Regions from separate parts of the Homo sapiens genome. Here region 2 is linked to region 1. Evidence: fine-mapped expression QTL. Tissue or cell type: whole blood. Region 1 holds a variant in brackets; the other region holds the start of a gene. All regions are shown on one strand. Distances are between the middles of the regions.

Region 1 (16,450 bases):
GGAGTGCAATGGTGCGATCTCGGCTCACCACAATCTCTACCTCCTGGGTTCAAGTGATCTCCTGCCTCAGCTTCCCGAGTAGCTGGGATTACAGGCATGCGCCACCATGCCCAGCTGATTTTTGTATTTTTAGTAGAGATGGGGTTTCTCCACGTTGGTCAAGCTGGTCTCAACTCCCGATCTCAGGTGATCCACCCACCTCAGCCTCCCAAAGTGCTGGGATTACAGGCATGAGTCACTGCGCCCAGCCTTATGTTGTTTTACTGACTTCATAGCTGTAATTTTTAATGGCTATGTAATATATCATCCTGTAGACACAAAGCAATTAACTTACCATAAACCATAATATAAGACATTAGAGCTGTTTTGAATTCTTCAAAATTATAATGGATGACCACCTATTTCTACATTTAAAGTACTTTCCATGAGATAGACTCTAAGAAATGGAAAATTAATAAATTGACTGTTTAAGGTTTATCATGCACATTGTCCAAATGCTTTCTTAAAGTGCTGTACTTTAGCACAGTAACTATGCTAGTATTGCTAGTATCCCTACTGGCATTGTGTATTCTTTTAAAAAACCTGCTACTTGTATACTGTGAAAAATATCTCATTGTTATTTCTAATTATATCTCTGATTTCTTAAAGAGGGTGGATACTTTTTCTATGTAGTATTTATTTTGTGAATTGCTAGTTCTTATCCTTTACTCATCTGGCAATAATATCTTGTATCACATTTTGTGTAATTTCATGTCACCATTGGCTAGACTTTCTTTTATCTTGCTCTCCCAGTCCACTATAGTAAGTTTCCTCCGTTGTTGGGTAGATCTGCTTCTCACAACAGATCAGGAAGACACTTTAAATTCACTGGGTATTTAAAGTTTCACTTTAGGTTCATGGGCAAGAAACAGGTTGACAGATTGGCTCCTTCTCCAAATATCAAAAGAATAGAGTTTACCCTGGGTTGTTAACATGTTCATTAGAACTCCTAGTCCTCCCAGGCTGTGAGTTCAAAAAGAAATGTTTTTCGAAATAGATTTCCAAAATTAGCATGGAACAGATGTTGCTGCAATCTTTGTATGGGCTGGTTGTGTGGGCAGGATATCAAGCTAGCTTTTCACTTATATTCCTTTAATTAATAGCAAGTCCTATCATCTCTTCTGCCCTCTGTTCCTATTGACTCATTGCTTAAAGTCTCTTCAGGACTCAGTGGGGAAGAAGAGATTCCCCCTACAGGCCTCCCTCACGGGAATGCTGGGTAGCCCTTCCTTCGCCCTGCTTCATCAATCAGCACCATCTGTCTTCTGTCTTCTACAACCTAGAAAGTCTCTGCTTTGCTGATGGTCACTCCATCTGTTCTCATTCTCAGTGCTATTACAGAATTACAAATTTCTGTCTGTAAATTCTTTTTCCTGTCTTTTCACAGGGAGTTGGGGATAAGAGGAGGTAGACACATATATTTAGTCTACTGGCTTTCATTACCATGAACTTGAGTTAAAATCCTGAGTTGACTTGATTTGGAACCCCAAAATATTTCAAATTTAGAAAGTATAAAAAAAATTCCAAGACATTCAATTAAAATTAGCCTGAGTTTTAAAGAATACTATTTTTCAATACCAACTTCAAGAGTAAATCAGTTTTCTGATATGGATGACCAAAGAATCATAAATAAACACAAAAGTTTAAGATGGGGCAAGACCTGGCATCAAAAAGAGTGGGAGTGAGGCAGAAATAGGAGAGAAGAGAAAGGAAAGCTAATGGTCTGAACTGCTACAGAGAAGGATTGAAGTGATTTTTTTCCCCAAAAATGTTTTTTTTCTTCAGCATTGGGACAAGCTGGCTAAAACTCAAAATTTATAAGAAGATGTATTGATCAAAGCCTTGAAAATTAAGCATTGACATTATTTTTACAAACCAGGAATGTAAAGCTAAAGACTGACTCTATAGCAACAAAGATTCCCTTTGTGCCAATTAACCTTTACTACAGCTCTTTTACAGACCACCTGCTGAATTCTTACTTTGTGGAACTGCGGGTGAATAGCCAATTCTTTTTAAGGAGTAACAGCGAGCAGCTAAGAAGAAAGAAAGAAAATATAAAGTAGTAATCTCTTAAATTCTGACTTGTATATGTGGCACCCCACATCCATCCAGTCAGGTTAACCTCTTAGTATGTACTGTTAAGATCCTTCCTGTATAAGTAAGGCATTGCGAATGTCACTTTTTAAATTTAAAGAATCCCTTTGGCACTGAATATAAAATATATTACCTGAAACTATGTTTAATGACAACTATTATCAGTTACATTCTCCATCACAAATCTGTTTAGCACAGACTCACTTCCACAGGTGATCTTGAATGCTGTTGAATACGCCTAATCCTACCATTTGAGTTCATCACCTTCCAACACACACAGGCACAGGTGGAACTTGAGCTCCTCCTATCCTCAGTGTTTTTTCATGACTATAAAAGTAACATATATTCATTATATATAACTTAGAGAGTAAAGTCAGAAAATGTCACCTTTGTGGCCCTGACACCCAGTATACATTTTTTTTGAATTTTTACTCTCTTCTAGGACTATCTTAAACAAAGTAGTCAACCAGTCACAAAGTTCAGCAAGCTAAGAGAAAAATTCCAAGGAAAGCAGGAAAAAGAAAGAAAAAAAAGGGAGATTAAAAAATCCAAATAACTGGATAGGACAAAAACCTTGGGGAAAAATAAATATCTTCCTATTTATTGAGTGCTTATTCTGTGTCAGACACTTTTTCAACTGCGTACTTAATTATCTCATGAAACCCTCAAAACAACTTTAGACCTATCATTCACATTTTATAGGTGAGAAAATTGAGCCATATCAAGCTTTAAAAATGTGCCCTAGGACACACTATTGATGTGAAGCCAGGATTAAAAAAAAAAAATTCACATCCTAAGTGTTTGCCAACTAAACTTTATCACCACTATGGAAGAAACTAGTAAGAATGACCTTACACAAAGGTTAGAGGCAATTTCTCTTAAACATAAAAAGATAATTCTCACGGGTGGCACAGAAAAGCTACCCAAATCATTTTATAAGGTCAGTGGTATAAAATAGCGATAATCACACCAAAAAAAAAAAAAACTACATTGCAGTCTCATTTATGAACAGAGAAATTCCATAAAATACCAACACCTGAAATTTACCTCTCAGCACACAAATAATCCATTACTGTATAGTGTGTTATACAGTCGACTCTTGGATAACACAGGGATTGGGGTACTGAACCAACTCCCCCAACCCCACTGTGTGCAGTCGAAAATCCAACTTTTGACTCCCCCAAAACTTAACTACAAATGCTTATTTGACTGGAAGCCTTACCAATAACATAATAGTTGATTAACACATATGTTATATGTATTATATACTGTATTCTGACAATAAAGTAAGCTAGAGAAAAGATAATGTTAAGAAAATTTTAAGGAAGGAAAAATACACTTACTAGTCATTAAGTGAAAGTGGATCATCATAAAGGTCTTCATTCTCATCATTTTCATGTTGAGTAGGCTGAAGAGGAGGAGGAAGAGGAAGGATTGGTCCTGCTGTCTCAGGGGTAGCAGAGGAAAAAGAGGTGGAGGAGGTGGAAAGGAGGCAGAAAAAGCAGGCACACTCATTGTAGCTAAAGAAATGCATTGTAATTAGACTTTTTTGCTTTTTCATTTTTCTAAAAATGTTTCTATGTGGTACCAATCCTTCTTCCACCATTTGCTTTAGTTTTAGTGCTTGTATCACGGAAGAGTCTATGTTGTAAACGAAGTCAAAAGCAGTCTTGAATAATAAGAACCCTTCTGCTAGATTATCTAACATCACTTTGTTTTATGGGTTTGCTTCTTCTAGGACTCCTTTCTCATCACCTGGCACCAGTTCAGAAGCATTGATCTCTATCAAGCAGACTTTTGTTCCCCCTCCCACTATTTTTTTTTTTTGGCACGTCCACCAACTCTTTCAAGATTTCCTTGACTGGCTATGTCATAAATCTTGTGAAGTCATACACAACATTCGGACACAGTTTTCTCCAGCAGGAATTTATTGTTTGGGGCTTAATGGCTTTCACAGCTTTTTCTATAACAATGATGGTATCTTCAATGGTGTGAGCCTTCTAGGCTTTCATGATGTTCCTCTATTGGGGTCCTCCATAGTACTGACATCCTTTCCACAGAGTGCTGTGTGTAATGAGCCTTCCAGGTCCTTACAACCCCCAATCTAGAAGCTGAATTCAGAGACGTAGTGTTTGGTGGCAAGTAGACTACTTCAGTGCCTTCAGTTTCGACCTCATAGGGTTTGGGGTGGCCAGGGGCATTATCCAATATCAAAAGAACTTTAAAAACCAATCCTTTACTGGCAAGGTACTTTCTGACTTCAGGGACAAAGCATTGATGAAAGCAATCCAGAAAAAGGGTTCTTGTTGTCCATGCCTTCTTGTTGTACAACAACCTAAAGACTGGCAGCTGGTGTTTATCTCTTCCTTTCAAGACTTGGGGATTAGCAGCTTTACAGATAAGGGCAGCCCTGATCATAAACCCGACTGCACTTGCACAAAATAGTAGTTAGCCTATTCCTTCCTGCCTTAAATCCTGGTGCTTGCTTTTCTTCCCTACCAACAGAAGTTCCTTGTGGCTTTTAAAATTTTTTCCAGAAGGGCAATTTTGTCTGCATTAAAAATCTGTTCAAGCAGATATCCTTTCTCCTCAATGTTTTTCTTAATGGCTTCTGGGAATTCACCTGCTGCCTCTTGGTTGGCAGAAGCTGCTTCTCATGTTATCTTGACATTTAAAAAGCCAAACCTCTTTCTAAAATTATCAAACCATCCCTTGCTGGCATTAAATTCTCCAGCTTTAGATCCTTCACCTTCCTTTTGCTTTAAGTTGTCATATAATGACACTGCTTTTTCTGGAATCACATTGGAGTCTACAGCTATGGCTTTTTTTCGTTAGACCCAGGGACAGATTGGAAAGGTATGCCTTTCTTACAGCAACCCTGCACCCTCATAAAAGCTGAATTTTCAATTTGATAAAAATGTATTTTGCAACAAATGCAAAGCTTTTGTGCCTGCTGCTGTAGCTGCAGTGAAGGCTTCATATATTTTTTCTTTTTTTTTTTTTTACAATGTCCCTTACTCTGGATTCATTCATCTTGAAATGATGGGCAATCACAGCTGAAGACCTCAATCTATGGTACATATCAGGCAATTAAACTTGTTTCTTGTAATGTTGACTTTTCTCTGCTTCTTGGGAGCACTTCCAGCATCACTAGTAACATTTCTTATGGGTCCCACAGTGTTATTTAAAGTTTACAGTGTTGTACAAACACTACATTTACTGGAGAGATGAACTGCTCACACAGAGATAATTAGTGTCACATGGCATTTGAAGTAGGTATTTGCAACATTTGAGCTCAACAATAGCAACAGGAGGTAGTTATAAAATTATTACAGTAGTATCATATGCACTACACTTAATTTTATGCAGTTATAATTTAATACTGAATCTTTACATTGGTTTACATTTCTCTTGACTGCAAATGGCACCACATATAGTTGTGTTTGTATGTGATATGATTTGGTTGTGTCCCCACCCAATCTCATCTTGAATTGTAGCTCCCATGATTCCTACATGTTGTGGGAGGGACTCAGTGGGAGACAACTGAATCATGGGGGCAGTTTCCCCCACACTATTCTTATGGTAGTGAATAAGTCTCACTTAGCTTGGCTCTCTCACTCTCTCATCTGCCACCATGTAAGATGTGCCTTTCACCTTCTGCCATGATTGTGAGGCCTTTCCAGCCACAGGAAACTGTGAGTCTGTTAGACCTCTTTTTCTTTATAAATTACCCAGTCTTGGATGTGTCTTTATCAGCAGCATGAAAACAGACCAATACAGGAAACTGGTACTGGTAGAGTGGGGTGCTGTCGTAAAGATACCCAAAAATGTGGAAGCGACTTTGGAACTGGGTAATGGGCAGAGATTGGAACAGTCTGGAGGGCTCCAAAGAAGACAGGAAAATGTGGGAAAGTCTGGAACTTCCTACAGACTTGTTGAATGGCTTGGACTCAAATGCTGATAATGATATATAGACAATGAAATCCAGGCTGAGGTGGTCTCAGATGGGAGATGAGGAACTTGTTGGGAATTGGAGTAAAGGTGACTCTTGCTATGTTTTAGCAAAGAGACTGAGAATTTTGCCCCTGAACTAGAGATCTGTGGAACTCTAAACTTGAGGGCGATGATTTAGGGCATCTGGTGGAAGAAATTTCTAAGCAGCAAAGCACTGAAAAGGTGACTTTGGTGCTGTTAAAAGCATTCAGTTTTAAAAGGGAAACAGCATAGAACTTTGACAAATTTGCAGCCTGACAATGCAATAGGAAAAAAAAGCCAATTTTCTGAGGAGTAATTCAAGCCGTCTGCAGAAATCTGCGGAGCCAAATGTTAATCACCAAGACAACGGGGGAAAATGTCTCCGGAGCCCAATGTTAATCACCAAGACAATGGGGAAAATGTCTCCAGGGTATGTCAGAGACCTTTGTGGCAGCCTCTCCCATCACAGGCCTGAGGCATAGGAGGAAAAAATGGTTTCAAAAGCTGGGCTAAGGGCCCCCCAACCCATGCTGTGTGTAGCCTAGGGACTTGGTGCCCTACCTCCCAGCCACTCCAGCTATGACTAAAAGGGGCCAGGGTACAGGTCGGGTTGTGGTTTCAGAAGGTGCAAGCCCCAAGCCTTGGCAGCTGCTTCCACGTGTTGTTGAGCCTGTGAGTGCACAGAAGTCAAGAACTGAGGTTTGGGAACCTCTGCCTAAATTTCAGAGGATGTATAGAAACGCCTGGATGTCCAGGCAGGGGCAGGGCCCTCATGGAGAACTTCTGCTAAGGCAGTGCAGAAGGGAAATGTGGGGTTGAAGCCCCCCAACAAAGTCCCCACTGGGACACTGTCTAGTGGAGCTGTGAGAAGAGGGCCACTGTCCTCCAGACCCTAGAATGGTAAATCCACTGACAGCTTGCACCATGAGTCTGGAAAAGCCACAGACACTCAACATCAGTTCATGAAAGCAGCCAGAAGGGAGGCTGTACCTGGCAAAGCCACAGAAGCAGAGCTGCCCAAGACCATGGGAACCCACCTTTTGCATCAGAGTGACCTGGATGTGAGACATGGAGTCAAAGGAGATCATTTTGGATTTGACCACCCTGCTGGATTTTGGACTTGCATAGGGCCTTTGGCCCCTTTGTTTTGGCCAATTTCTCCCATTTGGAATGGGTGCATTTACCCAATGCCTGCACCCTCATTGTATCCAGGAAGTAACTAACTTGCTTTTGATTTTACAGACTCACAGGCTGAAGGGACTTGCCTTGTCTAGATGTGACTGAACTGTGGACTTTTGAGTTAATGCTGAAATGAGTTAAGACTTTGAGGGACTGTTGGGAAGGCATGATTGGTTTTGAAATGTGAGGACATGAGATTTGGGAGGGGCCAGGGGCAGAATGACATGGTTTGGTTGTGTACCCACCCAAATCTCAACTTGAATTGTAGCTCCCATGATTCCCAGGTATTGTGGTAGGGACCCGCTGGGAGATAACTGAATCATGGGGGCAGTTTCCCCCATACTATTCTTTTGGTAGTGAATAAGTCTCATGAGATCTGATTGTTTTATAAGGAGTTTCCCTTTTAGCTCGGCTCTCTCATTCTCTTGTCTGCCACCATGTAAGACATGCCTTTCACCTTCTGCCATGATTGTGAGGTCTCTCCAGCCACAGGAAAAGTTTGAGTCCATTAAACCTCTTTTTCTTTATAAATTACTCACTCTTGGGTATGTCTTTCATGTCAGCAGCATGAAAACAGACTAATATAGTATGCATGTATTTTGATAAATTTTAACTTTTTATAAGATTTGTGTACCTGATAGTAAATAATAAACTAGTATCTGCATATATTTAATGCATTCATGATATACCTATCTTGTTTTCAATATTTCTAGGTTATACAGCTCACCTGCAAGTTTTTTCAAATTGTTGTAAATCTGTAAAAAAATTTCCAATATATTTATTGAAAAAATCTGCGTAAGTAAACTATTGTGGTTCAAACCTGTGTTGTTCAAGGGTCAACTGTATTCCAAAAATGCAATATTAGATTAATAGTAAGCATAAAAATACAATCACATGAATGGGCCCAATAAGAAAATCAATATAATCAATGCAAGTGAAAAGAAAAAGTTATGCAGAGAAGGCAAATTCATTAAAAAAAGAGAGACAGAAAAGAAATAAGCATTGGATAAAATTCAATATTCCTTCTTGATAAGAATTCTTCTGAGTTAAGCACTAGAGACTGCCTCTTATAAGTGTTATGTATTTCTAAAGAAATGGATCACAAGTGGGAGTCATTTTACAATTTTTTTTTTTTTTTGAGATGGAGTCTCTGTTGCCCCAGCTGGAGTTCAGTGGTGTGATCTTGGCTCACTGCAACCTCTGCCTCCTGGGTTCAAGCAATTCTCTTGCCTCAGCCTCCCAACTAGCTGGGACTACAGGTGCACACCACCACACCCGGCTAATTTTTGTACTTTTTAAGTAGAGGTGGGGTTTCACCATATTGGCCAGGCTGGTCTTGAACTCCTGACCTTGTGATCTGCCTGCCTGGGCCTCCCAAAGTGCTGGGATTACAGTCGTGAGCCACTGTGCCTGGCCTTAAATTGTTTTTAATTAAAAAAAAA[A/T]TTTTTTTAAAGAGGGGGCCATGGGCAGACAGATTCAGACTCCCAGCCACAGGCATCCAAGGGCCAAGAGCTGCACATAGCTCCCTTGGAGAGCATGTTCCTTTTATTACTATTTTTTGAGAGTCATTTTTATACAGGAGCCACACTAAACTTATCTGTATTTTTAAAAAATATACATGCCACTAAAGCAAGTGCAACTCATTTTTAAGGAATGCAAATTAGAGAGAACACGCTAGTGAGAGATAGAAGGAAGCTCAGAACTCTTTTCTGGGCTTTAGTACTCCTTTCTGCAGTGGCCAATGAATTAACAGACAACTTTTGCTCATATTTTTGGGCTTATTTAGTGCCTATTTACCCAGAGATTCCAAAAACAGTGATTAATAATAACACACAAATTACCAGCAGTGAAGGGAGACAGATGCTGTTCAAAGAAACTCCATTTTCTCTTGGCTACGATAAAATTACGAATCATGTAGGGTAAGCTGCATTGTGAGTCATAATTAAGTTAATAACGAACTACAGCCTGCTCACTACTGTTAACTCCTTTTCATGAAAGATAAAAGTGTATCTGAAAAGTAAAAAATCTTAAGTTGAAGTTATACAAAACATAACGTGAAGTTACAAACTAGGGGAAAAAAAAAAGACTTGACAATTCCCTGAAAATCATAAAACATCTTGTAGCACTTATATTTTTCTTCCTAAGAGTACTGAAAAATCTAAATTTAAGATTTGATCATATTTATTTTTTATTTTTGAGACAGAGTCTCTCTCACTTGCCCAGGCTGAGGGGTAGTGGTGCAATGCAATCTCAGCTCACTGCAGCCTTGACCTCCTGGGGTCAAGCAATCCTCCTGCCTCAGACCATTTCATCCCCACCACAGCAGCACCACCATACCTGACTAATTTTTTCGCTGTGTTTTTTTCTAGAGGGGTTCTGCCATTTTGCCCCAGGCTGGTCTGGAACTCCTGGGCTCAAGTGATCTGCCTGCCTCGGCCTCCCAAAGCGCAGGAATTACAGGTATGAGACATCACACCCGGTCCATATCTTAAAATTTTAAATAATAGCAATTTATGAAGTCATAGACTTAAAAGTTTCAGTTCATATCAGACAACTGATTACACCAAAAACATATGCATCTGTATGCAGTCTGCTTGAGGCAGGCTCGGTGGCGCACGCCTGTAGTTCCAGCTACTCAGGAGGCTAGGGTGGGAGGATTGCTTGATCCCAGGATTTTGAGGCCAGCCTGGGCAACGTGGTAAGACTCCATCCCTAAAAAAAATTAAAATAAAAAAACTAAAAATAGCCTAGAGGGAAGATTCGCTTACAGGTGTTTTTAACCAGGAGTATGACTCAGAATCAGGTTTTTAAAAAATGCATTTACTCTGGAACCATCCATGAAGATCCTAATTCACTGGTCAAGGATGCAGACAGTGTGTGTGTATATATATATTTTGTAAAAAACTGCCTAGGTAACTGTAGTTCATATCTCTGGTTAAAAATCATCACTGTGTATATTTATAAAGTGAAACCATATAAAACTGCAAACATTATATATATATATACATACAAAAACAGCAGTTTCATATGGTTTATCTAATAGAAAGTGGCTAGGGGATAAAAATATCCAACAGACTGAACATACTACTTTGCACCAGTGCTCTTCACTAAGTTCTTTATACTAGTTGTTCGAAGTATTGATAACACTAGGCAAGAAATGGGCAAAAATATACCCAGACTTTGTAGGGGGAGGTGAGAGGGTTGGAGAGGCAGCTGAAGGAGAAAAAGGAGCAAAGTCATGGATGCCACAGTGCAAACCACTGTTATGTCTAGGATGAAGACCACTGGGGTTAATGATGGAGTGAGATGGTAATAGAAGACACCAGAGAACATTAATTTAAGACAAGCCCTGCATTTAGCAACTGTCTGTGTGCTCAAGAAAGGGACAACGCTCCTCAGTCATTTCCAACATGTCTTAACATCAAGAATACGGACTAGAATGCATGTGCTATTAATACTCTTAACTCAAAGAAAGAGAAGTAGGAGGAAGAGTACCCTCTCTTTAAGGGGCTTAGTGGGTACAGTCATGGCTCATCAGGAATGAACTAGTATCACACAGGCTGGGCATCAGGCCCATGCACAAGTAAACCTCCAGTCTTTTAAAACTATCATTAAAAGACAATCATATTTAAAATTGAAATACTAAACACATGCACCTACATTCAAACTAGTGGTTGGAAGCAGAATTGTAGCATTTCATTAACATTTTTTTTCTTTTTTTGTGGAGACAGGCTCTTGCTGTGTTGCCCAGGCTGATCTTTAACTCCGGGGCTCAAGCAATCCTCCTGCCCCAGCCTTTCAAAGTGCTGGGATTACAGGTGTCAGCCACCATGTCTGGCTGCATTTCATTATCACTTAAGGCTTACAGGCCTCAATTAATATAGAGGACAGGTTAATGACCAAAAAGATAATGTTTAGAAGGTCCAGACCCCACAGAAAGTAGGGCTTTCCTGGGACCGTCTCCAATACAATATCCTTCAGTATACTAGTCTATTTCTTTCCATTTTACAATTTTTAACAAGTTGCTTTTATGTTTACCTAGAAGTTTCATTGAACAATTTTTAAAAGTAAACATAATGAAATTGAAGAATCACAGAAGGAAGCCTTAAAATAATCCAAACCCTTCATTTTTTATATGAGGAAATAAGGGTTCGATAAGAGTTACATCACTGGCATGAAGTTCCAGAGAGTTGTGGTGGAGTTAAAATGAACTGGGCTGGGCGTGGTGGCTCATACCTGTAATCCCAGCACCTTGGGAGGCCGAGGTGGGCAGATCACCTGAGGTCAGCAGTTCAAGACCAGCCTGGCCAACGTGGTGAAACCCCGTCACTACAAAAATACAAAAACTACCTGAGCATGATGGCAGGTGCCTGTAATCCCAGCTACCCGGGAGACTGAACGGGAGAATCGCTTAAACCCGGGAGGTGGAGGTTGTAGTGAGCCGAGATCACACCACTGCACTCCAGCCTGGGTGACCGAGCAAGACTCCGTCTCAAAAACAAAACAAAACAAAAAAACACAAAAACAAACAAACAAACAAAACTGGAACAGAGCCAGGATGGTATGATCCAAGAGATTCTATATATCCATGCCAGGGTAGTCAGATGTGACATCACTGGAAACTCCCCAATGACTTCTGAAGTGAACATCCCTTACCCTCATCCCTTCACTTTATCCCAAAATCCAGGGTCCAGATCAAGAGATGGGCTGAGCATGTTTGTTTTACTTAGTAACTGGTACCCACTTCCACATTCACCAATCTGTCATGCTGGAGGACTGAGTTTAAATAAATGAGCCAGAGTTCAACTAACTTCCTTCAGGATTAGCCACAATATAACCTAACAGTTTCATGTTATGCCAGGTGTTCAAAAACACGGTCTTGTTGCACAGTAACAGGTGCTGTATGAAGACAAAGAAACTTGTTACAATAGACTCTTAACAACAAGGCATTCTGGTTGCCAGATAATTGGCTGCAGCTCATAAATTACCTTTTTTTCCTTTCCTGGGTTCTTGTTCCTATCAAAAATCAGTAGTAGCCTCATAGAGTCATAACTAATCCCAAATTAGTGAGTCTTAACTCTAAAGGATTGAAAGAAAGACAAATAAAATGCTAATGCTCTTACATGCTATAGGATTTTAAATTGAGAAATAGCAAACATGAATAGATGGGACCTGTATTTGCTTAATTCCAGTAGACTAAATACTCTGGCCTAAATAGAGTTGTCAATCTCATAAACCCAAGAAATACTCAGAAACAAGAACATTCAAGTAACTCTGAATTTTGAATTGCTAGTTACAGTTCACTTGACAGGATGCAACTATAATGTACAAGGCTTGGGAATAAATTTAAGATATCTGAATAGGGGTTTTGACTCTGCCACTACAAAAAAACTATATACTCACTAAAACACCAAAGGGACTGATGCAAATCCCCTTAGATAAATACTGCCTGCCTTTTTATGTAAGTTCAGCTGATCACAATAAAAAGTGAAATTAGTTTAACTCAGCTTACTTAAAATTCTTCAGAGACTCCACATTGCTCATAGGTGAAAATCTAAATTCCTTAATTCTGCCCCTGCGCATTTCTTTTTTTACTCCTCTCCCCTTAATCCTTATATGCCTTGATCCTGATGTATTCTGTAATTTCTATTAATAATATAATTGTGGAAAATTTGGGGAAGTTTGGGTTAAATTATAATAAGCAAAGTGAAACAATGATACCAAGTAAGGTTAACAGACTCTGTAGGGACTGGCATGACATAACTCAAAGAAACAGAAGATATACTTGAAGTGAGTTTACAACAATCAATTATTTTCCAAATGCTATATTCAGATCTACATACCTTTTTAAGAAGAACAATAAACTGGAGTTACAGTATGAAAAAAAATTAAGAAATGGGAAAAGAAAAACCTTGGTTATCAAAAGCTTATCTAGCCACTATGTTATTCTATATAAATTTTAGAATTATATTTGGAGCAGCTTTATTGAGGTACAACATACGACAAACTGCACATATTTAAGCCTGTTCAACTGTAATCCCTCCCTTTCCTTTCCCTCCATCTCCCCTCCATACACTGATCTGCTTTCTGTAAATATAGATTAGTTAGTACTTTCTTCAGTTTCACATAAAAGGAATTATGCAACATGTACTCTTTTATCTGGCTTCTTTCAGTAAGCATAATTTTGACATTTATCCCTGTTGCTTGTATCTATAGCTCATTCCCTTTTATTGCTGAGTAGTATTCCATGGTATGGATATCTTACAATTTGTTTATTCATTCACCTGTTGATGGACATTTGAGTGGTTTGTAGTTTTCAGCATCTGCTGACAAAGGTGCAAAAGGCAATTCAGTAAAGAAAGAATCACTTTTTAAACAATGATGCTAGAACAATTAGATGCAAAAATACAATTGCAAAAAAAGAATTTAGAGGCTGGGCGTGGTGGCTCATGACTATAATCCCAGCATTTTGGGAGGCCAAAGCAGGAGGATTGCTTGAGCTCAGGAGTTCAAGACCAGCCTGGGCAACATAGTGAGATACAGTCTCTACAAAAACTAAATTAGCTGGGTATAGTGTGGCACACGCCTATAGCCCCAGCTGCTTGGGAGGTTGAGGTGGGAGAACTGCTTGGGCCTGGGAAAGCGAGTCTGCAGTGAGCCATGATCACACCACTGCACTCCAGCCTTGGTGACAGAGCAAGATCCTCTCTCAAACAAACAAACAAACAAACAAACAAAAATTTAGATTCACATATACACCATATACAAAAAAATTAACTCAAAATGGATTGTTTCTAAATGTAAAACCTAAAGCCACAAAAGTTCTAGAAGAAAGCATAGAGTTAGGCATGTGACCTTGGGTTAGGCATTCGATGATTTCCTAGATACAATGTCAAATGCAAAATCTATGAAATTGATAAGTTGGACTGCATCAAAATAAAAAACTTCCAGTCTTTGAAGGTTAAGAAAATGAAAGGATAAGTCACAGACTGGGAGATAATTTTTACAATTTAAAACTAAAATTACTGAGGAGAAGACAAAAAGAGGCAGATTTGGCTCACTAGCAAGATCTTTCCAATTACTTATTACTGTAAAAACTGGAATAAACTGTCTGTAAGCCCCATCAAAGAATTCAAACAGATAAAGAAAGAGGATTGGAGACTGAGCTGATTAAATTCAAATACCTTCTTATTCTATAAATACATATTTTAGCCATTTCTAAGACGACCAATTTAATGCATATTTGATAACATATTATTCAATGGTGAAAGAAGCAATTATGTTCTTGATTCATACAATTCAATAAAAATGTTTTCAATTAAAACATTTTTACTGATAGGGTGATGTGACTGTGTACATAAAGGTAAAGAAAGTTGTTCAAATAGAACCCCCTGTGCAGTGTCCTCTGCCTTCCAATTGCTCTCCAGCCTTCAATGGGCTTGTTTCATTGTTCCCTAGTATTCTGGATATAACTTCTATCAGTGCTACTCATCAAATTAATTATTGGGAGCTGAGAGCTATCTTTCTCAGTTCTGTAATCTCAGCATCTAGCACAGTACATGAAAATAACTAGTACATATTCAGATGGAAAAAAACCCTAAACTCTAGAAAATGATTTTGGAGAACAGTTCATCAGTATTGGCAAAATTCTGAGACATCCACCCAGGAGGAATAGGTACTCTGCTTAATGCTGTTTTATCACCTGGAAGTACAATGTACTACAAACAAATTAAATGCTGGTCTCAGAAGCTATAAGCTACTACAAGACTAATGTTCAAAAAGGTCCTAAAAAATAAAATGGAATTGTGAGGGAGAATTCTGCTGAGCTGAGGTGACACTTCATATAATTATTCTAAATAAATAAATTCTAAATAAATTATTCTAAATAAATTATTACAACTAGGTAGGAGGATTATAGGAGCTCAGGAGTTTGAGACCAGCCTGGGCAACATAGCAAGGTCTCATCTCTACTAAAAATGTTTTAAAAATTGGCCAGGCATGGTGGAACACATCTGTGGTCTCAGTTCTCAGAAGGCTGAGGTAGGAGAATGGCTTAAGCCAGGTAGTCAAAGCTGCAGTGAGACATGACTGTGCCACTGTACTTCAGCCTGGGTGACAGAGCAAGACCCTATCTCAAAAAACAATAATAATAGGCCGGGCGTGGTGGCTCATGCCTGTAATCTCAGCACTTTGGGAGGCTGATGCAGGCGGATGATAAGGTCAGGAGTTTGAGACCAGCCTGACCAACATGGTGAAACCCCATCTCTACTAAAAATACAAAAATTAGCCAGGCATGGTGGCGCATGCCTGTAATCCCAGCTACTCAGGAGGCTGAGGCAGGAGAATCGCTTTAACCTGGGAGGTGGAGGTTGCAGTGAGCCGAGATCGCACCACTGCACTCCAGCCTGGGCAACAGAGTGAGACTCCGTCTCAAAAAATAATAATAATAATAATAATAGTTTGAGACCAGCCTGGCTAACAATAATAATAGTTTGAGACAAGCCTGGCTAACATGGCAAAACCACATCTCTACTAAAAATACAAAAATTAGCCATGTATGGTGGTGCATGCCTGTAATCCCAGCTACTTGAGAAGCTGAGGTGGGAGAATTGCTCGCACCTGGGAGGCAGACGTGGCAGTGAGTCAAGATCACACCACTGCACTCCAGCCTGGGCAACAGACCATCTCAAATAATAATAATAATAATAAAATTAATTAATTCAACTACATCAAGATTTGACTACAAAGAAATTCAAATCCTCTGATAGGCATTTACTAAAATCACTCTAGAAAGTAGCAAACCTCTGTAAAACTTTTCTTGCTTCTTACCTTATACAGGTATTATGAAGTTTAGGAGTCTGAGGAATATTAGAATTGCTTTATTCTTATATCCACTCCAACAGGTTTATGTTACTCCTATGATTACAGCAACTGAACAATTTTTGCAAATTAACTGAGGATTTGAATATCCTAGTCATCCTTGAGAACCCAATAAAACCAACGGACCTTCATCCCTAGAAGCCCTACTATGGTCCTGTTTAAAAACTAATGCAAATATCATAAAACTTATACCTACAATTATTACTTTTGGTGAATTTGTATGTGAATTATTAGTAAGAATTGATATGGGGTGGGGAATGGCTATTACAGTTTGAATGTTTGT
Region 2 (16,450 bases), 38 kb after region 1:
AATTGATGCTAAAATTCATACAAGAAGGCAAGAAAAACAATGAAGAGGAAGCGCTATAATGGGTGACTAGCCCTACCAAACATTAAAACATACTACAAAGCCTCTATGATTAAAATGATGTGGTACTGGTGCATGAATGGTGAGATAATCCAATAGAAAAAAAATATACCCAACTGCATATAGAAGGAACAAGAATTTTTTTTTCTTTTTTAAATAAATGTCATTGGGGCAACTGGATAGCCACTTGGAAAAGGATAAAATTAGATGCATTCCTTATATCATACATAGAAATAAACTCTGAATGGAACTAAATGTGAGAAATGAAACTATATGAGTACCAGAAGAAAGCATGTGTGAATTTCTCTATAACCTGAAGGTAAGAAGTTTCCTGAATATGACTAAAACTTCAGATGCAGTAAATTTAAAATTTATATATTTGACTATATAAAAACAATCTTTTGCATGGCAAAAAATCACCACAAGCAATGCCAAAAGACGACTAGCAAAAATATCTGCAACATATGTCAAAATTAAACGGTTAATATTCTTAAATAGAGAGAACTTTTCAAAGCTGAGAGGAAAAAAGACTGAAAGTCGTATAGAAAATGGGCAAATTGGTCGGGCACGATAGCTCATGCCTGTAATTCCAGCACTGTGGGAAGCTGAAGTGGGCAGACTGCTTGAGCCCAGGAGTTTAAGACCAGTCTGGGCAACATGTTAAAACCCCATCTTGACAAAAAAAAAAAAAAAAAAAAAATTAGCAAGGCATGGTGGCATGCACCTATAATTCCAGCTACTCAGGAGGCTGAGGTGGGAAGATCACTTGAGTCTTGGAGGCTGAGGCTGCAGTGAGCTGTGATCGCACCATTGCACCGCTGCACTCCAGCCTGGAGGGTCCAGCAAGACTCTGTCTCAAAAAAAAGAAAAAAAGTAAAAGAAAGCTCGGCATGGTGGCTCACGCCTGTAATCCTAGCACTTGGGGAGGCTGAGGTGGACGGATCACGAGGTCAGGAGTTTGAGACCAGCCTGACCAACATGGTGAAACCCCATCTCTACTAAAAATACAAAATTAGGGTCAGGCACGGTGGCTCATGCCTGTAATCCCAACACTTTTGGAGGCCGAGGCAGGTGGATCACGAGGTCAGGAGATCGAGACCATCCTGGCTAACACGGTGAAACCCCATCTCTACTAAAAGTACAAAAAATTAGCCAGGCGTGGTGGCACGCGCCTGTAGTCCCAGCTACTCGGGAGGCTGAGGCAGGAAAATCGCTTGAACCTAGGAGGCAGAGGTTGCAGTGAGCTGAGATGGCGCCACTGTACTCCAGCCTGGCAGAGTGAGACCCCATCTCAAAATAAATAAATAAATACATACACACATACAAAAACGTGCTAGGCGTGGTGGCGTGCACCTGTAATCCCAGCTACTCAGGAGGCTGAGGCAGGAGAATCGCTTGAACCTGGGAGGCAGAGGTTGCAGTGAGCAGAGATCGTGCCACTGCACTCCAGCCTGGGCGACAGAGCGAAACTCCATCTCAAAAAGGAAAAAGAAAAGAAAAGAAAGTGAGCAAATAATATGAACAATAAAAATAAATATTAAAATGACCCTTAAACATATGAAAACATGTTCAATTCACTTGTAATAGAAGTACAAATGGAAAATACACTGAGATACAATTTCTTACCTATTAGATCAGCACAAATTCAAAAGCTGACAAAACACTGCTGGTGAGGCTGTGAGGAAATAAGCACTCTACTCTCATACACTGCTGGTAGGAATGCAAAATAGTATAACCCCACAGGATGAGGAGTTTGACAGTACCTAACAACTCTACATATGCATTTATCCTGAAGATGTATCTCTCCAACAATACAAAGATACATGTACACAAAGTTTTTCACTGTAACATCATTTGTAATTGCAAAATATTAGATATTACTTAAATGTTCAAACAGGACATTAGTCGAGAAAACTATGGTACATACACGATAGCAGTTAAGAATGAAAGTTACTGATTTTAGTTTATGTATTTTATCTTTTCACACAGCTACTGACTTGTTAGGAGATACATACTTATTAAGTTGTTCAGACCTAATTACTTAATAAATTAAACTGGCCAGGCATGGTTGCTGACGCCTGTAATCCCAGCACTTTGGGAGGCTGAGGCACATGGCTCACGAGGTCAGGAGTTCGAGACCAGCCTGGCCAGCATGGTGAAACCCCGTCTCTACTAAAAATACAAAAAATTAGCCAGGCATGGTGCCGCGTGCCTGTAATCCCAGCTACTCGGGAGGCTGAGGCAGGAGAATTGCTTGAACCTGGGAGGTGGAGGCGGCAGTGAGCCGAAATCGCGCCACTGCACTCCAGCACGGGTGAAAGAGCGAGACTCCGTCTCAAAAAACAAAAAACAAAAAAATTAAACTGTTAGGTGTTTCTTTTGACCTAGGGATGCTGTGAAAAAAATTACTGCGATAATAAGGGTGCCATGAATTGAGAAAGTTTGGGCACTTGACTGATAAAGGCCTACGAAGAAGGCCTTTAAGAGAGAGAAAGAATGTGTGTGTGTGTGTGTGTGTGTGTGTGTGTGTGTGTAGTTATGAGGTTACTGTGGACTGCTGTCAACAAAATTTACAATAGGCTAATGAAAGTACTCTCTCCAGTGTAGTTAAGAGCTGTAACAGATATTATGACAGCACATAAGAGAAGCAATCAGCCCAGTCTTAAAGGTTTTTTGTTTTTTGTTTTTTGAGGGATGGGATCCAGAGAGAGAACCTAATTGTAATTTTTTGGAGAATTATAACCTAAACTGAGTTCTGAAGGACCAGTAGGAGTATACTAGATTAGGGGAAGGAAGAGAGGCTAGAATTCCAGGAAGAGGAAATGGAGGACTGAGTAAACAAACACTAGCATTCCAGAAGCTGGGTATTGGTAGAACAAAAGATCATCCAAGAAGAGAGATAAGGCTAAAGGGTTAGGTAAGAAAAAAAATGAAAAATATGAAAGATAAAGGGGAAAAAAGAGAGTTAGGTAAGGAGCACATCTTGAAGGTTTTGTATATGAGATTAAGGATAAATGGAGTTTGAATTTTATTAATGGGCAAAAAAGAGCCACAAGAGGATTTTAAGCAGAGAAATATCACCATTGTTCTAAGCAAGAATGGGAAAAGTATCAGATGGGTTCCAACCATAGGCTAGAAGGCTGCTGTAGTAATCCAGAATATCTAGACAGGGCAGCTGAACTCAGTGTTTGGTCACGCAGTGTGGCAACCTCCACTTTTAATGGAGTACTATGTTAGCTTCTCAACTACATAAGAAAACAGATCCTGTGGCTTAGATGACCATAATCATAACTTTTGGAAACTGGGGGATCTTTGCCCACCTTCCCAATAAATCTGGGAGTATACGCCATTTTATAATCTAACTATGTCTTATTGTCCAAAATAACATTACCAAACCCTGACATTTAGTTTCAAAAGTAAATTCAGCAATAAAATTGGATCCCAGACTTTAAGGAGACTATGTATGTCAGTGTTACATCTATTGCATCTAATATAGGACCCTAGCTGTGAAGGCCTTTAAGAATAGTATAATTTTATGGAAGCATGCCTTTTTTGGCTTGTAAAGACTACCCTCTTGACTTTCAGAAACTAAGTCATCACCTTCACGTATAATTAAATCAAAGATGCAAATTCTCACCTAAAATTTACTCATACATATTTTAGAAACCCATAGAACTTTAATTTCTTTTTTTCTATACGGCAACCCAAATCCTTATGAATGCGATAAGGTAATAAGAAAGATGTCTTAAAGAAAAAACAGAATAACTGTTACTTATGGGGGCCAGACAATCAGCTGTTTTTTACTTAAGGGTACATCTTTTAAAAAAAAAAAAGAGAGAGAGAGAGAGATGGACACATTCTTCAAATTAAGCCTATTTAAAAGTGCATTTTAAAAAGTGCACAGGCTTAGGAGGGAAGAGAATTCTACCAGCACTGAATAGCAGCTAAACCCTTACAAGACTTCTGCCACTTTTAAGCCTCCATCTTAAACCCAGAGAAAATGATTAATGGTCTCAAACGGTTAAAAACAGACCAAGCACATCTCTGCTTCTTTTACCATTCTTTCTACTGTCCCCCATAGCTTCTCCCCCATTTCCATTAGTGAAAGAACGAACTAAAAAAAATGTGATTTCAAGGAAAGGTCACTACAAATAGATTTATGGTATTCCTCTCAAATAGGGACGATTCTGTTACTTTAAAAAGCACTAATCAAACACCAGAATTGAGTCCAAATACTTTACCGGGACACCCACGGGAAAAATGCCCAACCATTTTTCCATCATGGCACACATGGACGGTGATAACACTGTATTTGTAGGCACGCTGAAGATAAAAGAGAAGAATGGCTGCTGCTTGAGGCCACCTGGCCAGGACTGCTGGCAACCCCAGGCCACACTTGATGTCCAAGAGAGAGGAATCAGTATCTTCACCTTCCTGAAGCTCCAGTTCCAGCTCAGTCAGAACTGCCTTTTCCACAGCCATTTAGGATTAACTGCAATAATACTCAGTGCTCTCAGCAATTGTTACTTTCAAATCTAGGCTCTACTAAACACAAGCTAGGTGCCTAGCCTCTGGCAAATAACTTCAATTTACCTTAATAAAGTATGGGAAAACTACCTGTCTTGCAGAAGTGTTGTGGAGATTAGAAATAATTTAAGTAAAGCTCTTATCACAGTGCTCGGCAGGCAATCAACACATGAGAACTCTTATTACCAAGAGGGTTGCTGAATTAAAGAAGGAAAATCTAACCTCTGTATAGTGGTAATGTCACTGAGGTAAGAAATTGCTGGCTTCCCTCTCCTTAGTGTCTAAGAGTTAAAATATTTTATAAAACAATGAAAATCATAAACTGTCTCCTTCAAAATCATAGTCTTTTTCCTCATTAACATTCACAGCCTCTTATTCCAGTATTTTAAAAGTAATTGTCCTTGCCACTCATCTACTAAAGAATACAAATGCATATTACACTGATATGCATATCTACAAGAATTGACACTGGTACATGTATTTATGTTCTGTAGAAGCTAAGCTTGGAAAAACAGTGCAGGACCACCACCACATACTTGGAGAGGAGAGAAAACGTCAGCACTTTCTTCTTATTTGAACCTCCCTAATGTGAAAATAATCCAACCATCTACAGACAAAAATATTCCCTCACAAATGGTAGACAAGATTCTTTTCTATAATTAGCCCTTTCTTCCTTTGGAAAGCCCTGTGAAGAAAGTGTTGTAATGAAGTACTGCTTCAAAATAAATGATCCATATTATTGCACACTCAGCAAACACACTAGAGAACAGCATCTGGATCTTGGAAAATAAATGTAAAAGAGGCTATTGGTAAATCATGCCAAGGTCACATCAGGATTTCAGAGGATTGCGTGTATTCATGGGAAGAATGAACCACTATAAGCATTCTGGGAAGCACCACGTTATCCAAACAATGGTAACTCCTAATTTCCTCTTTTTCATTAAGATAGGGTACAGTTATCAACCCCAAACATAAACTTGATGTGTATCACCAGGCAGTCTCTTCCTACTAACTCTGAATATGCTCAAGTAGTAAGCATTTAACACTAGAATACAAGTTATAATGCCCAGCACAATTTTAATATAATTTTAACCTTTCAGAGGAGGATAGTTTTGGAAGGCAAAGAACTCTGACTGCTGAAGAATGAAACACGAAGTAAAGTCTGTAAGTGGCAAGAACCTAAAACAAAACAAACAGCCTAGCCCAACAAAAATAAGCAACTCCTGGATGGTGACTGTGAGATAACCTATACACTCATTCATTCAGTGCAGAAATGTGTGAACAGCTTCTATGTTCAAGGCATACTGCATAGAAACAGTCATAAGTAGGACATGGCTCCTGCCCTAAAGAAATCCAAGGTCAAAAAACGGTGTTGTCAGATAATACTTCACAATAATAGTGTATTATTTTAATACAGGAGTCGGTTTAGAATAATATTGTATTACCAGAGACAGAAAAACATGAGCTAATAAGACACACTGAAATACATTAATAAACATACTGTAAGAGTTTACCAATGAAATCTGTTATCCAATTTCTGGAATATGATTAAAGTTGCAATTTACTTTCTGGAAAAGAATTAACTTATGATACATGTTTTATAAAGGTTGTTCCCCCCCCACACCACACAATTTGTAAATTAGGTGCTTTTCAGCTTGACACGTAGGGCGTGGCACGGGACTTCTCACACTACCTCAGCCACACTTGGATGAGCTCTTACAAGTCTGGACATTCAGGTTTCCGAGCACAGGCCAGTTAACTCCCTAATTCTCCCTAAATCCTGAAACAACACTGCCACCCCTGTGTGCCGTCACCCCCGTCTACTTAAACACATATATCCAGGCTAAAGCATGCCAATCACATCTTCCACTTCTGGAAATCTTTCAGAAACGAACCACAGAGGAAACACCTCTCTCCCAAAATGTATTCTCTTCCTCATATTAGAAGCTAGATTACCTGAAAATGGGCTAAAGCTGTGCAAGCGCCCAAGGCCAGGTATTCAGTTCAGTGCGGAGAGTCTAATGACTTTAAGTCTGAAAAACCATTCCTTTAACTGGCAAAAAAAAAAAAAAACACAAACAAACAAAACAAACAAACAAAAAACCCTGGCGGAGATGCTTAAAAAGCAGCGGCTCTAGCACAGGCAAGGAGTGGAAAGAAAGGGAAGGAGGGGAGAGGGGTGGAGTGAGGCGCGGGGACTGCGGCGGCAGCGGGTTGCCCCAGGTCGCGGGCACCGCCCGGGCGGGAACTTGGGCGCCGTGGACGAAAGGTGCGGGGTGACCTTCGGACGAGGCCAACTGAGACCGGCTGCCGGGCGCAGGGGACCTCTCCGCAGCCGCTCACTCTCGGGGGCTCACTCGCCCCACAGCGGCGAACGCGGTGCCCCGGATTCCAGCCGGGCTCATCTCGCAGCTCGTCCCCGGGCAGAACGTGGGATGTGCAATCTCGGCAGCCCGAACCCGCGTCAGGGCCTCGGCCCGCCGCCGCCCGGACACACCCCCGCCGCCGCCCGGGTGGCCCCAGTCCCTCCCCGGGCGGCCCGAGCGGGCATCGCTCACCTGCACCGCGAGCCAGTCCGCCGCCCCGAGGGCTCCGGAAGCCGCGGCTGCGTGGCTCCGGCCGGAGGGTACTCGGTCCTTGTCGCCTGGAAGGCCCCGCGCCGGGAGCGGTCGAAGGAGGAGTCTGACGGGTGGCGGGGGAGCCTGGGCGGCTGGAGGAGGAGGAGGAGGAGGAGGAGAAGGAGGAGGAGGACTCCGACGCTTTGCTCTGGGGAGATCCACCCTCCTCCTGGCGGCTCTGCAGCAGCCGCCACAGATCACTTCCGGGGCGCTGGGGAGCGGGGCGGGGCAGCTGGGGAGCGACTTCCTGTCCGTGGGCTGAGAGGAGGGTGATCATGGGCCTGGGCCGCAGAACAGTGGCTCGGAGGGCGCAGGCTGCCCGGCCTCCGCCCCCTGCAAGCTGAGGGCTGTCCGCGCTGTCTTTCCGACGGCCCCACCCCCGGCTCTCTGAGCTCCGCGAGGTGAAGTCATCTCCCGGGGGCTCGGGAGTGGCCGCGGGCCTCGCGGAGGTTCCCGGATCTCGGCGTCGTTGCCGCGGTGTCCTTGTCTTTCTTTTGGGGACCAGGAGGGGGTTCTTGGGGGAAGGAGGGGAGAGCGGAGGCCGCCATCTTGCTTCTAGAGGGTCAGCTCATGTTCCCTGGGCGTCTCAGGGTTGAGGCCGCTCGTGTGGCGTGGCCGGGGGTATTCAGAGCGGAGCTGGCGACGTGGCTTGTCACGGGCCAAATCCCAGGAGGCGGGTCAGCCGCCTACCCTGGCTGGAGGGTCTCGTGGCTGCCCTGGGCCTCATCTAACTGCTGATCCCCTGGAGAATTCGCTTTCTCGGACGGTCTGCGAGTTCTTTCTGAGGGGTGTCGGACCCCCCTGCGACTCTGCAGGTGTCGGTGTGGCACTGAGATCATCTTGCGGCCCCATGGCACTGTGATTTGGTAGCTTGTGAGAAGTAGTTTCACTAAATCCGTAAATTTAAGTTAGCAGCTACAGATTCTTATGTCTTGACATTTATTCGCTTATCTCTCTTTGCTCCCCACAAATTGAGTACCAACTATATTCCTGGTATGAGCCATTCAAGGAATGTCCAGTCTAGTGGGCAGACATACATGAAAGCAAATCATTGCTATTGGAAGTATGGTTTATCAAGATGTACAGCGTGAAGAATGGATAGCTTTACTAACGTAGGTTAGAGTTTTAAAGATAAATAGGCATTTTCTACTACAAAAATAGGGGTGGGATGGCAAATCCGGATCCGAACAGAAAGGAGATGCAGCACGGGGACAAATAATTTGTTGAGAAGAATGAGTAATAATTACAGGTCTTGAAGTTCAAACTTAGGTTGCTGAAGAAGATGAGGCTGGAGAAGAAAACAGGAGCCAAATCACGAATCGTCTATGCCTTGGTGAGGCAATGAGTGGACAGATTACAATTTAAGCTATTCTTCTGTTGGTAGAGAACAGATAACTTGGGGGGGTGGAGGTGGGGGGGCAGAGAAGGATAAGCAGAGAGCCCACAAGGGGGCCATTGCAGAAGCCAGTAAGAGAAAACTTAAGGACCCTGTGTGAATGGTAGTGAGCATCCAAAGGAGATGGATTCCTAAAATATTCAAGAGGCCATATCAACTGGTAATTGGTTGCTAGGGGCAGCTGCCAGATAGGAGAATGGAAGAGGCAATGATGATGCCTTGTTTTGCTTTGAGGGAGGGGCAGGATAAGGGTGTATTTTACTAAATAAGATAAGGAAGAGTTAGGATGAGTCCTGGGAGGGGACATTTTTGCAGAAAAAAAATGAGTTCAGTTTTGGAGTTGATGAGTGAAGTAAGAGTGGTGCTGTCTAATGGTGGTTGCTATATGGGTCTAGAGCTCTAGGGAGGAGCTGGGCTGAAGTTGGAAACACCACAGGTTTAGATGACCATAACCAAGCTGACTGCAGTCTTACGTCATTGAGCACAGTTTCAAAACCACTTCTCCTTTCTCCCTGCCTTTACTTGGGAAAATTACTGAAATACTGCATTAAAAAACCCAATATGGTGATATGTGTCCATCCATAGACCAATATTCTAATGTTTAATGGTCTTCTAAGGACCCTAAAGGTCAGGTTTAGCAGAAACTGGATGTAACAGTGGTAACTATTAATAGTATAGCATCATTAACTCATAAAATGAAATATTATCTATGTTTATATTTTAATATTTTAATTTTTTTCTTTTTTATTCTGTAGGAATTGCTCCATTCCAATAAAAATATTTTAAATTTAATCATTGACAACAGTTAAGCTGGCCATAGGCTGAGGATTGAGGATGGTGGGTTGCACAAATATCTGCTGAATGGAGAGCTAGAAGGAGGATGACTTCAAGAAGAGTCAGCAATAGGAACGCAATGAAAGACAACCTCAAATTCATTAGTCAGCCTGTCTCAGCTGCTTTTTGGTGGCTCACAGCTATGCTAACCTAGCATAAAGCAGTGAGAAATAGAATACTTCATTTTGAGCAGAGCTTCAGAAAACCACAAATAGTAAAAGCCCTATAAATAATAGCTACAGCTGCAAACCAAAGACTAATTATTAGTTTTTAACTCTATATCCCTGTAGAGCAGCATTTTTGAACACACAAAAAAAGAGAAACGCGTTCACTTACGTCTTAGATTATTTAAATACAGTATTCTCAATTTGTCTAGGATAAAAAAGCATTTAGGTGTATTGAACAACCATATAATGGATAATATACTGAACAGGAAATGAGAATAATTAGCTTGAGTCCCTTTTTTGTCAGTTGTTCACCGTATGACCCTAGCAATGTTACTTAACCTCTCTATGCCCTAGTTTCTCTGACTGTAAAATAGAGATAATAATAACTTTCTATCAGCCGCCTCTCAAAGATATTATAGGAAATAACAAATTAATGCTATGAAAGCTCTTTGAGGTACTTGGATGAAAGGGCATAATTGTAAGTACATATTATTAGTAATTAGCACTAATATCCAGTAGCACCCATGAGCATTCCTGACTTTGCTGCCTGGATTACTCAAAGAACATGAAGGATCCTGTTTTGAAATACACTTAGATCTTTTTTCTTAACTTGTGAATTGACTTTACTATTTATGATCAAACCTTGTGTATTAACAAATATAGTTAATGAAAGAGGGAAGTAAAAAGAAGTTTTGGTAACCACAACTTTTATATTCATGCTACTCATAGCTAATATATGCTTTGGGGGAAAATACAGGGTAGATAGGGATTTGCCAGAAGCATGTTTTAGAATTAATGATTAGTCTACTCCAGTCAGTTAACTGGAATTTTGTATTAAAAACATTATTCATGTCCCCATAGAATAATGCAGTCCCTATAGAATTTATAGACAGTTACATGTTTGACACAATTAAGTTGAACATTCCTGTGAAACTCTGTCATTCTCATCACTGTTTAATCACAAACATGTAATGAAATATATAGACTTGTGAAGTTTTGTCCAATGTCTATCCCTAAAGTAGATGAGAATTTTTTCCATTAAATTGGTGACTTCAGTATTTCCTTTAGAGAGGTGTATGCATAATGTAAACATTTAAATGTATTCATGACTACATAATGTGCATGTTTATTTTTATACACTTGCTTATATACCAATTTATAAAATTATCATATAATGTATATTAACTATACATCTGGGAACAGCAATGACAAACAAGGCTTCTTTGTGTTTTAGGGCCAGATAAGAAAGTAATTGGTTAATAGCCATTTGTCACCACTGGTGAAAAATCAACTCAAAATCATGTTTTATTATTTATTAGAGTTATGAGCATTATCTATAAGATTCATGACACCATGACTTGGTGTGGTGGCTCACACCTGTAATCCCAGCATTTTGGGAGGCCGAGGCATGTGGATCGCTTGAATACAGGAGTTAAAGACTAGCTTGGACAGCATAGGGAGCCCTCATCTCTATTAAAAAAAAAAATTAAAAAAAAACAACACTAGGCAGGCATAGTGGCATTCACCTGTGGTCCCAGTTACTCAGTAGGCTGAGGTGGATCCCTTGAACCCAGGAGGTCGAGGCTACAGTGCCTGTGATCATTACACTGTACTGCAGCCTGGGCAACAAAATGAAACCCTGTCTCAAAAAAGAAAAAAAATTCCGTGACACCTTGACATTTGTACTATTTCATTTTGTTTTCACAATTTTGTGAGATACAAATTGTTGAAAGAAATAGGCTCAGAGTGCTGAAAGACTAGCGCTCTGAGACTAGTTTTTAAAGACTTAAAAATTCACTACAGTTGTCAAGTAACATACCCAAACACACATTTTGAGATTCTCAAAATATATTGTTTCTTTTAGTACTTTATACCAGGGTCACCAGCTTGATATGACAGTCCAGAATGTATTTATAATATGGACATTTCTGGCTTATTATTGATTGCCTGCAGCATCTCCAAAATTCAGCCAAACTTAACGTTTTTAAAACTGAAAACTACAATTCTTATGTTTATGGCTGTATCTTTACCAGCTTGAAGACAGGTACATTGTTTTATTCATTTTTGTATCCTTCATGGTGCCCAAAATAAGTACTCAGAAAATATTTTGGGGATGAGTAAAATGTATATTGTGATGTTTAGTTGAATTAGCGGGAAAAAAGCTGATACAATCACCTCAGAAACTTTTTTAGGAGGTCGTACACATTTTCAGCACATTCATGTGAAGATAGTTTATTTGGGTTTGTACTTTAAATTGGTGGAACCATTGCCTCAATTTCCCACTTCATTTTTAATGACGTCATGCCTTGGAGAGATAGGCTTAAGTAGGTGATGCAGATGACAGTCACCTGTATGATATGCCTCTGGATATGTTTGTTGGGCTTAGATAGTCCGGATGACCCACAACAAAAGGGTCATCTAGAATATCTAAACACAGCTTTAATGAGAATGTGTAAAGAGTGGGGTTATGAGAGTTTGGGTCTTCATAATTCTCCCCTTCATGCCGACGACCCTTGTGGACCACATATTTCTATACTTTTCTGTCAAGGGATTAGAGGATAAGACTACTCTATCAGTGGTTCCCAAATGTGACTGCTTATCACAATCACCTGTGTAGTTTCAAAGGCAATTCAGATTCTCAAGTCCCACTCTAAACAGAAAATATTTAGATTTAGGATTAGAAAATACTGGGTGAAGTCCAAGGCATCTGTAACTGTAATAACACTCTCCCTTGAATTCCAATGATCAGTCAGGTTTGGGAAGTTCTGGTTTCAATAACTTGTTCAAGGTCACACAGAACCCTAAATAGAGCCAGAAACTAACTCAAATCTTTTGAGTCCAAGTTAAATATATTTTCATTGGACTCCTGCTGTCCATTTACTGACAATATATGATGGGGTAGGATGAAGAGGTGGGGAGAAAAGTAGCAATTTTAGTTTTTTCATTTTTATTTTTTACCATATTCTATGACATGGTTTTAAGATTAAATGAGCTAACATCCATAGAGTGCTTAGAACAGTATCTGGCACATGGTAATTAGGTGTAACGGTTCAACGAATAAGTCTCCATTGTCCAGTCATGGCATTCACTTTGCCTGGGGTTACATTAGGTAACATTTTATTGGATATCGACTTTTTCTATGAAGAAAAAAATGTATGTAAATAAAGGTGGAATCTTTAGCCTTTATTTGTCATGGAAGCCCTGAATTTGTATAGCTGAAAATATTTCTATATTGTTTCTTTTCATCTTTTCTGATATATTAAGAAAATGTTAATGATATACTTATTAAATAAAATTGTGGATGTATAGCTGTGTAGTATTTTTATATTATCTAATTTAGCATATAAGATAAGGTATTTTACATTGTCTTCCTATCACTGAACTAGCTCCAAAATTGATTCTTATTGGTATGTAATTAAGCATTTAGTTTTTAGAAGTTATTGTTTGGATTGATCTTCCAGATGAAATATTTCCCCTTAACGAGGTAATAGATATACGTGGCTCTATTTTATTCCCTTATTTCTCTGCAAGTTTTTCAGTTTTTCAATCTTGAACAACTTTTTACACTTGTTAATTATAAATAAAATTATGCATTTTCATTACTAGTAAGGGAAGAACCCAATTTAATACTTTAAAATGCTCTTTGATACATTTGGACAAAGTCTGTGAAAATATGCCTTTGGTCAGTCCCTGTCACTATGAAAATTGACATCCATTTTTGTTTTTATTCAGTTTTATAAGTTATATTATTTTTGAGGGATTACCCTATACCCAGCATCAATTTCTAGTGGCTCCTGTAATCCCAGCACTTTGGGAGGCTGAGGCAGGAGAATGGCGTGAACCCGGGAGGCGGAGCTCGCAGTGAGCCGTGATCGCGCCACTGCTCTCCAGCCTGGGCAACAAAGCGAGACTCCATCTCAAAAAAAAAAAAAAAAAAAAAAAAAAAAAAAAAAAAAAAAAAAAAAACCAATTATTGTATTATAAATGAATTGATTTATCCTGGAAAAAGGTAGAAGTAGTGATAGACCAGAACAGAAGATATTTATAACCTCAGGAGGTATATGGCAGGTAGAGTAGATCAGACTAATGGAGAAGCTAGAAAAAGAATCAGATATCATCAGTGATGAAGCTCCTAACTATTTGAATCCAGAGTCAGCCAAGGAAATGGGGTTAAATTACCACTTGTGAAATATTTGCAGTATTTCAGACATTGTATAAGGCACTTACCAAAACAAGAAATGGCTGGCTAGGTCCCATGAATCTAGGTAGTTTGAGTCTTGAGAGTCAGAGAAAATAGTAATAGTAAACAGGATATTTATATTACTCTATATTTCTACACTTATATACTTTATTATAAGAATTCAATTAATAATAACATGAGTGTGTGTTAGTTACTACTTATAATCAAATTAACAAGTTTTGAACTATACTCATTCCTTCCTCCATTCTTTTTACAATAGAGGCCATCATTCAATGCGTATTCTAGGTCTTGGCTACTCCTGTCTAGTTGGGACCTTGGTCCATCAATTATTCTCTTTCTGTTGTGTCTTCAGCCTCTCACTCTTTACTGGTTTCTTGCCATTAGCATTCTCATTTGTTAAAGTGTCTTCTTCATGCATATCCTCCTTCTAGCTTCTGCTCAAATTATCCTTTCCCCTAAGGAGAATTTTTGAGAAAATTGTCTATGCTTGCTTATCACCAATTCCTCACCTCCAAGTTACCCTCAACCATATATTAGACTTTTACCCCCAATACTGCTGTGAAACTACTCTTGATAAACTTACCAACATCATTCCTATTATGAGATATATCTTAGTTGTTAATGTTTCAATAGTATTTGAAGCTATTGACCATTTTTTCCTTTCTGAAACAATCTTTTCTCTTGGCTTCTGTGATACCATGCCTAACTGTTTCATTGTCCTTTGCATGCTCTGTCTTTGCTTAAATATTGCCACTCCAAGGAATTGTAAGGCTCTTATCAATGTAGTCTAGTCTCCACATTCTTTTTGGATGATCTCATCTACACCCATGGTTTTATACACCCATGGCTTTACTTTCTGTATATTGGTGACTTCTAGCTGTGAGCTCACTCCTAAGCTTGAAACCTATATATTTAATTCCCTATCTGATATCTCTTTGAGTGTTTTGTAGGTACCCAGCTCGAACTAGGCATGTCCAAACTGACTGATGATAGCCAAATGATCAAAGCCAGAAATCTAAATATTTGCTTTGAATTTTCTCTCTACTTCTTACACATCCACTCATTTACCAGGATATGCTAAATCTTCCTCCTCATTATATCTCAAAATCATTCATTTCACTCTGCTTCTATCACCACGTCCCTAATCCAAGCCATTATTACCTCCTTACTATTATTGTAGTATAGATTCAATGGGTTCAGACTTTTCCTGCTCTAAACGCAGTCTTCACTGTGCAGCCATCATGATCTGGGAGGCAAATACAACTTCTCTGCCTAAACTACTTTAATACTTCCATTAATCTTAGGATGATCTGGAATGGCTTGTTTGTCTTTCTTACTAGGAGGGCAAGAACTCTGTTTCATGTACTGTTATCACCCCCATATTGATTGGCTCAATATTGATTCTTTTAAGATGAATCATGGGAAAATATTATGAAGGAAAGTGCCCTGTGTGTTAATCAAGATAAGCTAGGTTATATTGCAGTAGCAGAAAACTTCAAAATCTCAGTGGCTTACCATCACAAAAGCTTATTGCTTGCTCATGCTACATGTACAGTTTGCTAGGATTCTCTCCTTTTCACTGTTACCTAAGAACCTACCTGTTGGAGGCACCAAGTGACATGTGTTTTCACAGTCACTGCAGGTGACTGCCAGGTGCATAGAACATGGCAAATCTTGCACTGGCTGTTAAAGTGACATACTTGCACTCATAATTCATTGACAAAGCAAGCCACATGTCATGCCTATTCAAAGTGGATAATCAAACCATATATCTGAAAGGAAAGGGAAACATAAACATTTGTATGTAACCCAATGATATCATACCCTCTTAGTTGAGACTCTTTTGCTTGCAGATGACATAAAACCAGCTCAGTCTAGCTAAGGGATGATGAGAAAAATATCCCTTCAAATTTAAAAAGGGAATGAAAGACCAGTGTGGCAGCTCTTGCCTATAATCCCAGCACTTTGGGAGGCTGAGGTGGGAGGATTGCTTGAGGCCAGGAGTTTGAGACCAGCCTAGGCAACTTAGCACAACGCTGTTTTGTTTTTGTTTTTGAGATGGAGTCTCACTCTGTCACCCAGGCTGGAGTGCAGTGGTGCGATCTGGGCTCACTGCAACCTCTGCCTCCTGGGTTCAAACAATTCTCCTGCCTCAGCCTCCTGAGTAGCTGGGATCACAGGCGCACGCCACCATGCCCAGGTAATTTTCATATTTTTAGTGGAGATGGGGTGTCATCATGTTGGCCAGGCTGATCTCGAACTCCTGACCTCAAGTGATCCTCCCACCTTGGCCTCCTAAAGTGATGGGATTACAGGTGTGAGCCACAGTACATGGCCTCATTTATTTAAAAAAAAAAAAAAAATTAGCCGAGCATGAGGGCCCGCAGCTGTACTCCCAGCTACTCAGGAGGCTGAGGCATGAGGGACTGGTTGAGCTCAGGAGTTTAAGGTTACAGTGAGCTATGATTGCACCACAGCACTCCAGCCTGGGCAATGGAGCAAGACACTGTCTGTTAATCAAAAGGGGGTGGGGAGGGGAATCATAAGACAGCAGATCATAAACTGAAAAAATTCAACAACTGAAAATGCAGGAGTATATCTGGGCCTCAGTGATAACTGGAACCAGGACTCTTCCTCCAAATCTTGTCTC

What was found.
Region 2: RALA starts here. The variant in region 1 is fine-mapped to the expression of RALA in whole blood (INTERVAL, PIP 0.92).

What each region holds. Positions count from the first base shown.
Region 1 is chr7:39,652,317-39,668,766 of GRCh38, reverse strand. The region is part of intron 1 of RALA (RAS like proto-oncogene A); the gene reads right to left. Among named protein-coding and RNA genes, the nearest start is that of RALA, 37 kb to the right of the region's middle. The variant A/T (reference allele first, on the strand shown) is at 8,730.
Region 2 is chr7:39,614,518-39,630,967 of GRCh38, reverse strand. RALA (RAS like proto-oncogene A) reads right to left here and starts at 7,396. Exons shown (of 5, transcript NM_005402.4): 1 at 7,143-7,396. It overlaps LOC107986785 (a long non-coding RNA gene), which reads left to right and starts at 7,491. Exons shown (of 2, transcript XR_001745175.2): 1 at 7,491-8,535; 2 at 9,354-12,907. RefSeq lists silencers at 6,193-6,242, 6,837-7,346 and an enhancer at 6,673-7,520.